Regions from separate parts of the Homo sapiens genome. Here region 1 is linked to region 2. The links come from fine-mapping of genetic effects on gene expression. A gene starts in region 2. The other region holds a variant in brackets. All regions are shown on one strand. Distances are from middle to middle. Region 1 overlaps PPARG (peroxisome proliferator activated receptor gamma). Region 2 holds the start of TSEN2 (tRNA splicing endonuclease subunit 2).

Region 1 (8,337 bases), 54 kb after region 2:
ATCTTTTTTTAGAGACAGGGTCTCACTCTGTGGCCCAGGCTGGAATACAGTGGCATCATCACAGCTCACTGCAGCCTCAACTCCCAGGCTCAAGCAATCCTCCCGCCTCAGCCTGCGAGTAGCTGGGACTACAGGTGTGTGCCACCACACATGGCTAATATTTAAAACTGTTGTGGAGACAGGGTCTCGAACAAGAGACCAGCTCAATCGATCCATCCACCTTGGCCTCCTAACGTGCGTGGATTAAAGGCTTGAGACACCATGCCTGGCGCAGATACCAAATCTTAAAAAAGTTCTGTGTTCCCCAGAGTTTCTAGCAGTGCTCAGTTGCTGGCCACTGGCTCTGTGGGTGCGCAGTGGCATTGATTAGTAGGTAGTATACGAGTAGGCTGCTGGTGGTGCGTGAAAATCTCGGTTAGGATTGTGGAAGAAGACTGAATTCTGGGTAATCCCAGGGATATGCTGCATATCAGCACATCCAGGCTACAAAACACATGCTCTGAGCAGTTTCTGATTCTGAAGTTCCCCTTCCCTTCTTAGTTCTGATTGTTAAAGCAGATGCAGAGTTCCGAAAAGTTGTAAATTGAGTAAAAAATTAATTTACTGAGAATGAAAGTGTATCAGCAGTTCCACTCACATATTTTAAAATGTCTAAGAAAGAAAAGAAAAATAAAGGAAGAAGGAAAGGAGGGAAGGGAGGGAGGAAGAGTGAGAGGGATGGAGGGAGGGAGGGGAGAAGGAAAAGGGGTAAAAAAGAAAGCCTGGGGGCTAGGGTGGGAAACACACAAGACTCAGTCTTCAAATACTATCAGCAATTTCATAATATGGTAATTTTTAATATTAAAAGTAAATTGTAAATGTGTCTTTATAAACAATATGCATAAAATAGATCATATTCTAAAACCTTTTCTTTTTAAAATGCTTTTTCACAGTAAATTTCTTAGGTGTCAGATTTTCCCTCAGAATAGTGCAACTGGAAGAAGGGAAATGTTGGCAGTGGCTCAGGACTCTCTGCTAGTACAAGTCCTTGTAGATCTCCTGCAGGAGCGGGTGAAGACTCATGTCTGTCTCCGTCTTCTTGATCACCTGCAGTAGCTGCACGTGTTCCGTGACAATCTGTCTGAGGTCTGTCATTTTCTGGAGCAGCTTGGCAAACAGCTGTGAGGACTCAGGGTGGTTCAGCTTCAGCTGGAGCTCCAGGGCTTGTAGCAGGTTGTCTTGAATGTCTTCAATGGGCTTCACATTCAGCAAACCTGGGCGGTCTGGGGAAGCACATATGGAAAACACAACAGGGGGTTCAGTCAAAAAATCCTCTGGGCCCCGCCTTGGAGGCCTAGGCAGCTCTACCAAGCAACTCATCTGTATTTTTGGTTTGTTTTGCTTTGTATCTTAAATAGGTGGGGAGGAAGGGTAAGCAGATAATGGGTAAGAACTAAGGATGGAATCAGAACCAAAATGATCAGAGCTCTTTGCAGGGCCTTTTTCTGGCCAGGATGTAATCTGTGTGGTCAGCTGAGGGAGCATGGCATCAAAACAATCCTGTTCCCCAAATGAAGTTTCCTCTGCTAACGTGTTTCTACTCAGAAATCTCCTTTTCTTTTCTTTTCTTTTTTTTTTTTTTTGAGATGGAGTCTTGCTCTGTCATCCAGGCTGGAGTGCAGTGGCATGACGTCGGCTCACTACAACCTATGCCTCCCGGGATCAAGCTATTCTCCTGCCTCAGCCTCCTGAGTAGCTGGGATGATAGGTGCTCACCACCACGCCTTTCTAATTTTTGTATTTTTAGTAGAGATAGGGTTTCACCATGTTGGCCAGGCTTGTCTCAAACTCCTGACCTCAAGTGATCCACCCGCCTTGGCCTCCCAAAGTGCTGGGATTACAGGCATGAGCCACTGTGCCCAGCCAGAAATCTCCTTTTCAACTTCTGCTCCTTCCTGATGAATCTACGTTTTATAGCTTCTACTCAGTTTCTTATCATAGCTTCAAATATGCTTTTTTCACAAATATGCTTTTAAAAAAAGGTTTGTCTTTTTGCTTAATTTGCTTATGCTATGTTTGCTTAATATGGCATATTTCCAAAGGACAAAACACAGTTTTAAAATACTGATACATTTTAACAGAGGTTTCTTTTCAGTGGTAAGATTGCAAGCAATTTTCACTAGTTCTTCTTTAGATTTTTCTTTAGTTCAATTTGCAAATGGTGAACTTAAATTACTTTTAAGCAGTTTACTTTTTTCTTTATGTAGATCTTGTTAGATTTATTCTCAAATACTTTATAGCTTCTATTGTGAATGGACCCTTCATTTTCATTACATCTAATATATCCCCACTGATGTGCAGAAAACTAATTGATTTTAGTATATTGAAACAATTCCAATTTTCTGAACTTTTATCAGTTCAAATAGCTTTTAATCATGGATTTCTACTTTTTTTGGATAGATAATTATATCAGCAATGGTAGCTTTATTTATTTCTTCTTTTGCAGCATTAACCTTTCTCATTTCCTCTTCTTGCCATAGTGTGTTGGCTAAAACCTCCAATATGGGATTAAATAATAGTAGCAATAGTAGCAATTCTTGTTTTATTCCTAACTTTGAAGGAAATGCTTCTAATGGTTTATCAGCAACTATGATGTTTGCTATAGATTATGGAGAACATGTTTTACTCCTGGCTTTCCAGGGGTTTTACAATTTTAATTTGTTTTAGTCAGGAATGTTGTTGAATTTTTATCAAATACTTTTACATTTTTCTATCTAAAGAGCTATGATATCTGAAGAGTTATGGTTTTATCTTAACCTAGCACAGTGAATTACATTAATAGAGTTCCTTATACTCTTGTACTCACTTGCTAATATTTTATATAGAGTTTTTGTATTTGTAGGTGATACTGGTTTAGAGTTATTTTGGGGGCCATTCTTTGCCTGTTTTAGTAACAATGTTAACTAGCCTTATACACCAAGTTGAGAGGTTTGCCTTCTGTGTCAACGCAGTAATGATCTGTTCCCTGACGGTTTCTTAGAATTTGTTTGCAGAACCATCTGAGCTTGGTGATAAATCTATCACTATCTTTAATTTTTCTTCCATAGCTTTTATCTATTCAGGCTTTCTACTACTTATATGGTAAAGTTTTAGTAATTTATATTGGAATAAAGTTGTAGATGATATTGTCTTAGAATATGAAATGTATTATTTTTATTCACGCTCCTTAACTTAACGCTTTTTTTTTTGTGACAGAGTCTTAATCTGTTGCCCAGTGCAGTGGCATGATCATGGCTCACTGCAGCCTCCAACTCCTGGGTTCAGGTGATCCTCCTGCTTTAGCCTCCCAAGTAGCTGGGACTATAGGCATGAGCCGCCACACCCAACTAATTTCGAAATTTTTTGTAGAGGTGGGGTCTTGCTACGTAGCCCAGGCTGGTCTTAAACTCCTGGCCTCAACCAATCCTCCTGCCTCAGCCTCCCAAAGTGCTGGGAATATAGGCATGAGTCACCATGCCCAGCTCTTAGAGCTCTTTATTTGTGCATTCTCTCATTAAAAAAATCTGATTTGTCAAAGGTTTATCTATTTTTTGCTTTTTTAAAAAAGACATAGCTTTTGGTTTTATTAATCAAG[T/C]CTGTTTTTAAAAATTGTGTGTTTTGTTTTTAATTTATTGAATTCCTTTTTAAAACTTTCTTTAGGTTTACTTTCTTCTCTTTTTCTAGTTTTCTTGAGTTGAATGCTTAATTCATTTGATTTGGTATTCTTTGTATTCTAATAAATGCATTGAAGCCTCCACATTTTCTTCTTAGTGCCACTTTGGTTTCATCCCATGGGCTTTGATAAACGGTACTCTCATAGTTCTTTTCTAAACAGCTTGTCTTACAATTTTGATTTCATTTTTAACCTAAGAGTTATATAGAAGCATGTTTTTAAATTTCCAAGTAAAAAGTTTGGGTTTCAGTTTTTGTTTTCTAATCTCTAAGTTTTATTTTCTAATTTCTCAGTTTGTTGCCTTGGGTTAGATTATAAGGTTTTCTCAGTCAGGCTCATCAAGAAGACAGAACATTCACTTGATCATCTATCTCGTATTGATTTCAAATTTGAGCTCCTGAAGGCTATTTATTTTCTTTTAAAAACTGTAACTCTTCTCTCCTTCATGGTATGAGTTTTACCCACCTTTAATGTCCTTCATGACCTGGTCCTGGTCATCCTCTAGTCTCAGTTCTGTTTCATTTTGCTCCATGTTAAGCCATATTAATCTATTTCCATACCAAGTTCCTCAAACACCCTATGTTCTGTCAGGACTCTGCACTTATTCAGATTTTATTCTTCCTGCCTGAAACATTCTCACCTTCCCTTCACTCTTCTTATTGACTTCAACCATTTCTTCAAAATACAGCCTGTGGTGGGATTCCATCCTGAAATCCTTCCTCAACAGTATCCCTTCCTCTCTCCTGTTCATCTCATCTCCTTTCTCTGGGCCCTCATAGCACCCTATAAACACCTCAATCGCTACTATACTAGTAGATTACATTCACTGAATGGTTATTATTTTCCAAAGATCGTGCCAAGGGCCTTATATACGATATGCCATTTAATCTTCACAATAACCCCATGAGGTCATACTTTACAGAGGGAGAAATTAAGACTTAGAGAAAAGAGTTGCATCTTACCAAGATAGACCACTTGCTAGTAAATGCAGAGCTGACATTTGGATCTAAGTCTGTCTGGTTCCAAAGGCTCTGCTCTTATTCCTTATTATCTTGTATTGTAAGTTCTGACTTTCTTGTTTCTCCCCCGTTAGACCGTGAGGTATCAGAGGGCAGAGACTACGTTCTGAACCACCAGTGGAAACACAGGAAGCATTTGGTTGACTGAGTTAATGAGCGAGAAGGCTGTTCTGGCCAAGAGCCCTGGATCAAAAAGCACAATTCTCCTGGCTGGTGAACAGGCCTGAAGGCAGAATCCCTACACAATGAAGAAGTCTGTAAACGATGTTTTCCTGTGTCTAATAAACTCTAGTGACCTTTATCCATTGAGATAAGGCTCAAGAGAACAATGTGAGATGGCAGAGTGGTCTCAGAGTGGGATTTTCAGAACTCTAAATATTCTTCTAAGTTAACTTTCTTACTTTTCTTCCATTAAAGAAGGAAACTGGTCTTCAGTTTGATTTTTTCACTCTCAGGTCTCCAACATATCCCATTGACCAGAGTAAGTATAATTTTCTTTTTAGATTTCAGCATTCAATTTTGGAACCATCAGCAAAAGATCTCAGATTCTGAGAAGGAACAAATGATCTGGTCCTGGCCTGGAGAATTGGGCCCCTGGGAGCATGGGGTCTTCCTCGCAGTTGCTCTATGGGAATGAAAAAGCCACTGATGCTTCATTGAAGGCTGGGCCCCAGACTGGCACCTTGGTTTAATGACTACAGATCCTCCTGCTTGATGAATGTGTGCATCTCAAAGGCCAGAGGCAGACGTGCATCTAAAGACAGGTGCCGAGAGAGGCCCTCCTGGGCTGGGACCACTCAGCCTGGGCTAGGCCTCTGCTTACTAGACACTGGCTCCCGGAGCCTTTCTGCAGCTCCTCCTTCCTCCACCTGCTTCTTTTTTTTTTTTTTTTTTTTTGGTAGAGACAGAATCTCTACATTTTCCAGGCTGCTCTTGAATGCTGGGCTCAAGAGATTTGCCCTCCTCAGCCCCTCAAAGTGCTGGGATGACAAGCGGGAGCCACCGCTCCCAGCCTCCTCCTTCCTCTTGAGCAGCACCACTGGGGTCAGCCCTTGGGCTGAGGAGATGATGTTAATCTACTAGGTCCCGTTTATCATACAAACAAGGACTAACATGCAACTGATCAGGGCTTGCTGGAAACACTTGGCTCCGGTGCAGTGTCATGGAACTGGCCTCTCTAGGAGTGGAGAGGGATCTGGTTTGGATTTTCAAACCCCTCTTTGGCAAGTTATTCTTTATGATGTGATGGATGAAGCTTGGCTGAAGGGCTGAAATTTTGTGGCCACGGAGTAAGTATATTTTCTGCAATGACAAGTTAGATCATTTACAGATCAGTCCCATTGTCCCCCTGACTGAGCCTCCGTTAAGGCAAGATGGTTTAGGGAAGGAGGGCAGCAGAGAAAAGTTGCATATTCTACATCTAAAGCTTTCACTCACCAGCTCTGTGACCTTGGGCAAACTGATTAAGATCAATGGGCTCAATTTTCTTGTCTAAACAAAACAGACCGGACTAAATAGATAATCTCAAAGATTCTAATTCAAAAATTGTAAGATGTATTCTCATTTGTAATTCCCTCTACATAATTCAACTGGGGAAATATACTCAAACATCTAATTGAAAAAGCATATTAACATTAAACTTAGAACACCTGACTTACTTAAAAACAAGAACGCTTCCTTTGGTCTTTAAGCTCTAGTCAAGGGCAAAATGGATCTGCCAGGGTTGTTCCCTACCCTCCACCCTCCAACTGGTCACCAGCTCCCCACTAGTCTCTTTCCCCTTTCTGCTCCACGCACACTCAGTCCTTTACTGAGCTAAGCCAGGTGCCACAGTTGTGCCACAGAAATCCATCCAAATACCCAGACAGTGCCAGGGCCTTTCTCTTCTCTCTCCATTCCCAACAGCCTAGTGCCTGAAAAGGCACTGTTGCCAGGAGGCCCACCTGAGATCCTCTCCCTGCACCTTGCTGAGGTTACAGTTGAGTCTGGAGTAGGGCCAGGGCCAAGGGTCCTCTCTGCTGGGGTAGGCTGCTTAGAAGGCCCTTTTGGGAAGTGTGTGTGACTCAGACTCCAGGACTTAGCACTCGAGGAGGCTGGAGTCAATTACTAGTTCCCTACTCCCCAGGCTGTGAAGAATTGGGAAAGAAACCTTTCCGGTCTCCATCCACACGGTCCTGGAATTGATTACAGAGCACTGTGGATTATGGGCAAATCTACAAAGCTTCCATCTCGTCCAGATCTGGTACTGTTAAGTGGAGGGTTTATCTGAAGCAGATTCAAACGTTCTGGTCCTCTTGAGATCTGCCCACCTGGGCTGGGTGTTTCCCTAGCACAGATTTTCTCAGGAGGTGTCTCAATTAGGGAACCAGATGACCACAGTGGAGTCTCCTGAAGAAGAGGCAGAAAAAATGCAGGTGGTTTTGTCTCTATTCTAGGAGCTGCTCTCCTGGCTTTCTGCATCTTTCCCTATTGGCTCTCTGATAGAGACTAATCTGAAACCGACTGTCCCTAGGGCGTTCAAAACCAAAACAAACAAACAAACAAAACAAATGTGATTGCAGGGCAGCTGTAAATTGATCCACAGACAATGAAAGACCTTAGTTCAGGTGTGGGCTGAAAACTGGAGGGGAGGCAGGGCTACTTAGGGAACCCAGTACTTTGCAATTTAAGTTCCTTTTGCGCTTCCTCTCAAGTTTCCTTTATTGCACTGCTCCCTCAGTTCACAGGCATGTTCTAGGAGGCAGTGGATTGGGAAACTGAAGACTTGAGTCCTGTTTCTCTTCCACTTAGTTTCTGTGTGCCTGTGGACAAATCATCTAATCTTTCTGGGTTTAGGCTTAGTTTTCAAGACAATGACATTTCTTTCATAAGCGTATGGTGAGAATGAAATAGGTAGAGGAACTTTAGAACATATTATAATTCTTGTGTTTGTTCGAATAAAGGCAGTTTCCATGGGGTTGGGGTCAGGAGTGTAAGTAGGAGTGGGTGGCATATCAACAGTTATGAAATTGAAGGTTTTTGAGTTGTTCTTGGTTAGAGCAGAAATTCAGGAGCTCAAGAAAAATAATGCCTGATGCAGACACGTTTGGGGTTTCAGGCAAGTTCTCGTTCCTGTAGTTGAGTGCACATAGGCAAGGTGGTTTAAGAACAATAACAAAACAAAAAACCCACGGTGCCCCAATTCACTACTTCCTTGAAGAAATGATGCTGGGAATTTGAGGGTACTTTTCTGATCCAATTCAGCAAAGTATCATGGTGTGGCCTATAGCAATTCCTTCCCACCATCCTACCGATAGGAAAAAATTATTCAGCAAAGTTATACATGTGTCCTCTTAATATTTAAATTTGAATCGGAGCTTGGTCTAGTGCAGGGATTATCAATTTTGGCTACATATTAAAATTATCTGGGGAGACTAAAAAAGCAAACGAATGCCTGGGACCCATCCCTAGAGATTCTGATTCACTTGCCTGGGGTATGACCTTCAGGATTTTTAATAGCTCTTGGGTGATTCTAATGTGTGGCCAAGGGTGCACACTGCCAGCTGAGTGAGACGCAGTTGGAATTACAACTTTGCAAGCTAGGTAACCTTGGGCAAGTTCCTTAACCTTTCTATACTTCAGTTTCCT
Region 2 (8,337 bases):
AGGTCTGTTGAACTCCCAAGCCCATGCCCTCTCTCTAGATTCTGCTGAAAGCACAGGCAGGGTCTATCTACTTTTGTCTGATGACTCTTTCTCAAAATCAGACGGTGAAGGGTTATTGAGCAGTAACGGAATTACCCACTGTGCACCCAGCACCATGAGGGAGAACAGAAAGCCAAAGCCAGTACGTGTCCCTCTGGGGCCATACATTGGATCCAAGGAGACAAAACAAGTATATAACATAGCTGGAAGCACAGAAAGCAGGTTGGAGCTAACGGAACTGGCTGTTATCCACTAATGTCTAAAGGAGGGAAGTAAATGTGAACATATTGTGTGATGCAGACACAGAGATACAGTAGATGCACTTAACCTAGGAAAACGTAACCATATACATGGGAAAACAATGTAAATGGTGCAAGACATTCCACTCGAGGAGCAGCTGTCCTGGAATGAGATGGGAAACTTGAATCTGCTGCTCCCCCAGTACTAGGTCTAGACTTGATTTCAACTGAGAGCTTACCTGGTGCTTGAAGATACAGTGCGGCCAAATCATACACACGTTTAACCTACATGACTCCGAATCCTCACAAGGGAAAAAATAAGACTAATTACTTAGGTGGCTCCTGCACTCAGTACTTGCATCCCATTGGCAAGGGATGCCATCAAGCCTGAAACAGTCAAGAAGGTGGCCAAAACTGAGGGAGGGGAAGGTGAGTGGCTTTAAGAGTGTCATGACCATTAAGAAAAGGCTTATCCAACGTGTGATGATATCAGTATCCAACTTCTCAAGGAAGAAGCTGAGGAATTATATGAGGACACAGAAAAACACAGACTAAAGAGGAGTTAGAGGAAATGATACATCAATTACAAAGATAACCATGAAAAAGAAGAATCGGGAAGTTGGAACCTTCCTAGAATTGCCATTGTTCTAAGCAGCAACATGCTAGATTAATTTCTAAATAAGGTTCCTTGAAGGAATTACATACTGAGCATTACTTTGTACATTTTATATTTATGCATGCATCTTGCTGTATAGTGTTTATAACAAAACCACGTCTACTGCATGCTCACAGGAAACCTAAGAGATTTTCTTAAGAGCATATTTAGACTAGGCTTTACCTTGCTTGCTGACTTATCCCTCAGCCCAAGTACTAAATTATCACATTTAGTACTCAATTGGAGAGACAATAATTTATTCTAAAACTGAAAATAAACACTGCTTTTTGGGGGCAGGATGTTGGTCTCTAGTAAGGCACTTTTTGAAAGACTTCCAGGAATGGTTTGGACTTTTATGGGATTTTTCACTTTTATAACCTCTGCTCAGCAGCTGACTTATATACATTACATTCGGAATTTTAAAAAAATGAAAAAAGATTTAATGGCCACCTTCAAGAAGTTCTAATAAATTCTCTCAACAAATAAGAGTTGTATTTTAGTCTGCCTCATTTGTTCAGCGTTTTTCCCTCTCAGACTGCTGTCACATCTAAAAAAGGCAAGATTTAGCTGTGACACTTGATCGAAAGAACTCTGTACTCCAACCCAGGTGTGTGGGATGGAAGGGTCCCTGCGACAAAACACCCCTCATAATCCAAGTTCTTGTGTTACTCTTGCTCATGTGGCTGCACACCCCTCAGGAATTTGGCTCGCAGTAGGCCTTCCAGACATGCAAAGCCGCCATTATTATTGTGTGACCTTGCACAACCCACTTTCTCTAAGCCCAGTTTCATCTTCAAATCGAACAGGACTGGAGGAGTCTGGCAGTTCCTCAAAATGTCAAACACATAGTTACGACATGATCCAGCAACTCCACCCCTAGGTATAGACCTAAGAGAAATGAAAACATATGTTCATGGAAAAATTTGTATGTGAATGTTCACAACAGTATTATTCATAATAGCATCAAAGTGGAAGCCATCCAAATGTCCATCAATAGTTGACCAGATCAACAAAATGTGGTCTATCCATATAATCAAATACTTAGCCATAGAAAAGGAATGAAGTTCGGATACATTCTTCAACACCTGAAAGCATTATGCTAAAAGAAGTCAGACACAAAAGACCACGAGACAATTAAGATAAAGTTTCCGGAATAGACAAATCCATAGAGACAGATTACCAGTTGCCAGAGACAGGGAAAAGTGGGAAATGGGGGGGCGACTGCTAATAAGACAGGAGGTTTATTTTGGAGGGTGACGAAAATGTTTTAAAATTAGATTGTAGTGATGGTAATGGTTACATAACTCCGCGAATACGAAGACCACTGACTCGTACATTTCAGAAGGGTGACTTTTACAGAATTATATGGTATCTCAATAAAGCTATTTTAAAAAATTCAGAAGTAAAGACATTCCCCAGGCCATGTCCTGCAAGAATGACTTCACAGATACCAGCGTGAAGCTTCTAGAAAAGATAGAAAGAAACCCTCAGGGAAGGTAGAGCTCACTTCCCCAGGGGGAAAAATTCAAGAGGACAAATCAGATGATCTCTAGTTTCATGGAAGAGTCCTCCTGTGCTGAACTCGAAAGGCAAAGCAGAGGAGAAAAGACTGCATTTACCATTCCCCATATCTGCAATGGATATTCAAGAAGGTTCTTTAGTGTCGCGGCAGAACAGCATGCTGTAAGAGGTGGGATGTGAGTAAAATAAGAAGAGGAAACTGTCATAGGTAGGTACCAGATGCCAGAGGCACTCACTGCATGTGCTGCACATGTGGGTACTATAGTCATCCCTTGGTATCCACAGAAGGACTGGTTCCAGGACTCACCCCCTACCAAAATCCGCAGCTCAAGTCCCTTAAATAAAATGTAGTATTTGCATGTAACTTATGCCCATCCTCCCATCTACTTTAAGTCTTCTCTAGATTACTTAGAATACCTAATACAATGTAAATACTAAATAATTGTTATATATATATATTTTTAAATTTCTTTTTCCAAATATTTTTGATGCAACATTGGTTGAATCCACAGATTCGGAACCTGATAGCGAGAGCTGACTGTACTATCCTCATTCCACAGATATGAAAGAAGAGCGGTGCCTGAGGTGCACAAAAACATATAGGAAAGACTGGGTCAGTTGTCAAGAGGTTTGGGATGCAAAGGTTGGTTTGGAATTGGAGTCACTGCAGGTTATTTAGAATGATGATTGAAAAATGCAGATTAAGAAAATTAAACCTGGGAGTGGTACATCACACAGTGGCCCTCAAGCTTACCTACCCTTAACTCCTCATGCCCAGGCCTCACCTGCAATCAATTACATCAGAATTTCCTGGGTGGACCCAGCTGATTTTAACATATAGCTAACCACTGGTAACAGCAAGGTCTATTCAAATTCACTTAATCCCAGTAGCCCCCGGAGGTAAAGACTATTTTTATTTCCATTGTACAGATGTGGAAAGTGACTCGGAGGGGCCGGGCGCACCCCTGAGAAATCTTTACTTCTTATTTCCCCAACCTGCGCAACCTGACTCCAGAGCTGCATATTCTTACTTTCTATTAAAAGCAGAGTCTGTTTCTTATTCTTCCCTCGAGCACACAGGCTAACACCTCTTAGGTGATGGTAAATGTCTATTAGAAAAACAAAAAAGGGAGAGGTGGCTCCATTTAATTTTCCAACCTTCCTGGACTAGGTGCCAAACAAACCTGGTTAAAAAACCTCCTACCCAGCAAATCTCACCTTCTCCCAACCAAAACACGCTTCAAGCTCCATCTGCGCACCTCCTGGGCTTAGGGAGGCAAGGATGAAAGGCACAAGGTAAACAATCCTGCCTCTGGGGAGCTTTCAAGTTAGAACCTGAGAATAAGCCATATAAACAGATGACCAGCCTTTGAAAGTTGTTGTCAGGATTAAATGCATAATTTTGCAGAAGGCGTTTCGTTCGGGGCCTACCACGTGGAAAGCGCTCACCAGACGACAGCTGCAAATAAAATAAACTGCGCACCCCAACAGCGTTAGGGGCCCCGCCAATTCCTAACTCCCTGTCTTACCCCTTTGCTTCTTTCCTTGACTACCCCCACACCCGACCGAACTCCACCAGAGGCTGCGGCTCCTCTCGGGCATTGTCAGCTGCACCTTGCGCCCCAGCCCCACCAGCCCTGAACAAGGCGCCGGCGTTTCCAAGAACCAAGGGCTGCAGGCGCACGAGGAAAGCGCGGAGGAGTCAGTGACCGGGCGCACTCGGAAGCCTGGCTCCCCGTCCCGGCACTGTCTCGGCCGGCTGTGCGACCCCAGCACAGTACCTAGGCCCTTTCCTCTCTCGCCCTGGAGGACTTTCGGAAGAGCGAGATTTCCTTTCGCTGCAAAACACCAAACTCGGAAAGGGCCGCGCTTTCCTCGCCCAGGGCCCTTACCTTTCTTGGCCCCACGCGCTCGCCGTTACCCCGGCAACGCCGGCCGTGGGGCGGACACCGCTGCCGTCAAGCAGTGCGGCCGCAAAGCCAGCCGAGTGCGCAGCCGCAGAGCTCCCGTCGGGACTTGGCGGAGTGCGCCTGCGCACGGCCGGCTGGCGGGTGTTCTGTGCGCCAGCTCTGCCACTGCGGAGTATGAGGCGGAGGCTGCGTGCGCGCTTTGCTGCTCTCTGCAGGATTGTACGGAAGCCAGAACGATCCTGCAAGACGCATTTTACAGATGAGATGCAGTTACCCGTCAAATGTCACATAGTCACGTGGGAGGTGGGAGAGACCTAGAATCTTCGGCCCTCGGTGGATGGGATGTTTGAGGCGACCGACAGGACTTTATTAAATGGCCCTGAGGAAACTGATCTCATCTTTCTCAATGTAGAAAGAGGATCACAGCAGCGCACCTGTGTACGCTGCAGCATGCGGGGAACTTGCAAGGACGTTTTCTCTGGCAGACACCTGGCCAGAAGCCTCTGTGTGCCCAGACTGCCTGTGCAGTTAAGGGACAATAGGCGGCAGGTCCACCTGCTCTGCATCCCCATTTTCCCCCCTCACTGGCTGCGTGAGCTTGAATGACTGACAACCTTTCTGAGCTTGAGTTTACTGAAAAATGGGCCATCAGAATTACGGGAGATGAGCAAAACTGGAGTGCAATAGGAAGTGTAAGTTTCTCCTGACCTGGTTATTTTAAAGGAGCCCTGTGGGGAGTCCAATATATACTTTCCCAAATATGAATCACAGGAGTTCCACCACACAGACTAAGCAGGAGGCAAAGGAGGATGGCAAGGAAGTGTGGCAAATACTGCTGGAGAGATTCATGGTGCTAGATGTGATGATGGATGTTGAATTTTGGACTTCTGCCAATGTTCTTGCCTCCATTCCTTCACGCATGCTGTTGCCTCTATGTTCCCTCCCCTCTGTTAGCTGCAGTAATTCCTGGTCAGCCTTTAGGTCTCAGCTCAAATATCACCTCTTCCAGGAGACTTCTTGCCTTCCCAGACCTGCTTGGGTGACTTGCCTCTGTGCTCTGCAGTAGTCTGGCATGGCATGTGTTGTCCCTGTTTTTCTGGCCCTTTTTATTTTTTGAGACGGAGCCTGGCTCTGTCGCCCAGGCTGGAATGCAGTGGCACCATCTCAGCTCACTTACCTCACTGCAATCTCTGCCTCCCAGGTTCAGGTGATTCTCCTGCCTCAGCCTCCCGAGTAGCTCGGATTACAGGCGCCTGCCACCACGCCCGGCTGATTGTTATATTTTTAGTAGAAACGGGGTTTCACCACGTTGGCCAGGCTGGTCTCAAACTCCTGACCTCAAGCGATCCTCCCGCCTCGGCCTCCCAAAGTGCTGGGATTACAGGCTTGAGCCACTGCATCCTGCCTGGCCCTTTTTGAACTGCACTGTGGGCTTGCTCTTGGTAGAGTGAGATCATGTCGCAGCATTCAGTGGGTCCTCTGCTGCAAGGACCTTCACTGCTAGGCTAGGGAGTTCAGGTTTTAGATAAACCAAAATCAAAGAGCTTTGTGGTAAGAATGTTGCAAAAGAAAGGGAGAAAATTGGCAAGAGTCACAGGATATGGTAACAGGATGGATTGGGCAGGGGAGAGACAGCTGAAGAGAGGCTGTAATATCCGACCAGAACATGCCAATTTAAGAAATACTGGTTTTAGAATTAGAGGGCTTTAACAATGAAAGGGATTCAGAGGTTGTCCAGTTAAACTTCCTTATTTAACTGATAAGAAAACAGTTCCAGTGGCACTGTGAGTTGTCAGAGATAACCGAGCAGGTCTGAGGTGGGGCTGAGACTAGAGCCAGGTCTCTTAAATCCCATCCCAGCTCGTGGAAGGATTTGGGGTTTGCTGATAATGGGATCTCAAATTCCCCTCCCAAAAACATAAAAAAAGAAATTAAAAAAAGAAAAAAAATCTGTAAATTTTAAAAAAGAAAGAAATTTTCCCCAAGACTTTCTCAAGTGCATTTTAAACCCTTTGATATGGTTATTTTCAAACATACAACACAAAAGTAGAGAAAACAGTCCAATAAATCATCACTTCTGGCCGGGCACGGTGGCTCATGCCTGTAATCCCAGCACTTTGGGAGGCTGAGGCGGGTGGATCACCTGAGGTTGGGAGTTCGAGACCAGCCTGACCAACATGGAGAAACCCCATCTCTACTAAAAATACAAAATTAGCTGGACATGGTGGTGCATGCCTATAATCCCAGCTACCCTGGAGGCTGAGGCAAGAGAATTGCTTGAACCGGGGAGGTGGAGGTTGTGGTGAGTCGGGATTGCACCATTGCCCTCCAGCCTAGGCAACAAGAGTAAAAACTCTGTCTCAAAAATAAAAAATCGCTTCTACAACCTTCAACCTTTGGTATCTCATTTCTTTTGCATTCTCGATATACACACTTTTATCTCCTTGCTGGAGTATTTTAAAACAATCCCAGACATGATATAACTTCATCCATGATATTTCAGTAGGTATCTCTAATAGATAAGGACTTAATTTTATTACAATACATCTGCATCTACATATATATATATATATATACGCAGACACACACACACACACACACATATATCAACTGTGTAGTTCATTCTCATTATTTGAGGTAATTCTGTTCTATAAAGTTGCCACAAACACTGAATTAGTAAATACTGAACCATGTTTCCAGGAGAAATACAAGATACAAGGTTAGGTGTCTGTGAGTCTCTGGTCACAGCATTTTCATCAACTGGTCAATATATAACCTCACTTCATGTGTTTCTGTTTAAAGACACCTTACATATGTTGATTCATCAACACTGAACTCGCAGCCAACAGCACTATAACTCCTGCCTAAAGGAGGCTTATCTAACACACCTATTCTCTCCAATAAGGCACATTTCTTGGGTGGGGAACACCAGACAGCACTTCAGCACTCCACTTGGGGCCATTTTAAACAGTTAAATCACCAACAAAAAGCACAAAAATGTGAAAAACATGGCACAAACTAGAGCTCAAAAAAGCATACTTATTTATGGTATGAGAGCTGAAACAAGAAGGCAGAGTCTCCTTGTTCACCTGCAGCTGGGAATGTGCACACTGTGTGACTCAAATTTTTTGGTATTCTGTGCATGCACACATCTGCAGATGACTGTGACAGTGAAGTATTGATTGTGATGTTACCAATAAGTTTTAGCAACTAGGTGAGTTTGTAAATACAGAATCCAAGAGTAGGGAGGATGGACTATATCAACATATCCCCAGTATCACTAGCACATCTAACACAATGAACAGTTATCGGTGAAATGTGCCCAGAACCTCCAAGTAATATTTGGGATATACTTAAGAAAAAAGTTTATCTGAAATTCAAGTTAATCTGGGTGCCTCACATTTTATCTGGCCACCCTAGTGACAATTTATTGGGCACTTACTATGTGCCAGCCACTTTTGCATCCATGATCTTATTTAATTCTCATAACAGGGCTGTGAGATTGGTGTTCTTACCTCTCTTCTGCAGCCAAGGTTACCGCACATGCCCATGGTGTCATTGCTAGGAAGTAGTGAAGGCCAGATGAGGATACGGATCTACGGGGCTTATGCTCTTTTAATCTGTCATGCTGGATACAGGAGGGCAATGCATTAACAAAACATGACAGGCCGGGCGCGGTGACTTATGCCTGTAATCCCAGAACTCTGGGAGGCCGAGGTGGGTTGATCACCTGAGGGTGGGAGTTCAAGACCAGCCTGGCCAACATGGCAAAACCCCGTCTCTACTAAAAAAAATATATAAAAATTAGCTGGGCATGGTGATGCGCCTGTAATCCCAGCTATTCGGGAAGCTGAGACAGGAGAATCACTCGAACCCAGGAGGCAGAGGTTACAGTGAGCGGAGATTGCGCCACTACACTCCAGCCTGGGCGACAGAGTGATACTGTCTCAAAAAAAAAAAAAAAAAAAAAACA

Evidence for each region.
Region 1: its variant is fine-mapped to the expression of TSEN2 in visceral fat (GTEx, PIP 0.99).

Annotation. Positions count from the first base shown.
Region 1 is chr3:12,426,823-12,435,159 of GRCh38, reverse strand. It overlaps PPARG (peroxisome proliferator activated receptor gamma), which reads right to left. Exons shown (of 8, transcript NM_138711.6): 8 at 816-1,262. The coding sequence ends at 1,015. Among named protein-coding and RNA genes, the nearest start is that of TSEN2, 53 kb to the left of the region's middle. The variant T/C (reference allele first, on the strand shown) is at 3,614.
Region 2 is chr3:12,480,527-12,488,863 of GRCh38, reverse strand. TSEN2 (tRNA splicing endonuclease subunit 2) reads right to left here and starts at 4,384. Exons shown (of 12, transcript NM_025265.4): 1 at 3,984-4,384. RefSeq lists an enhancer at 4,041-4,460.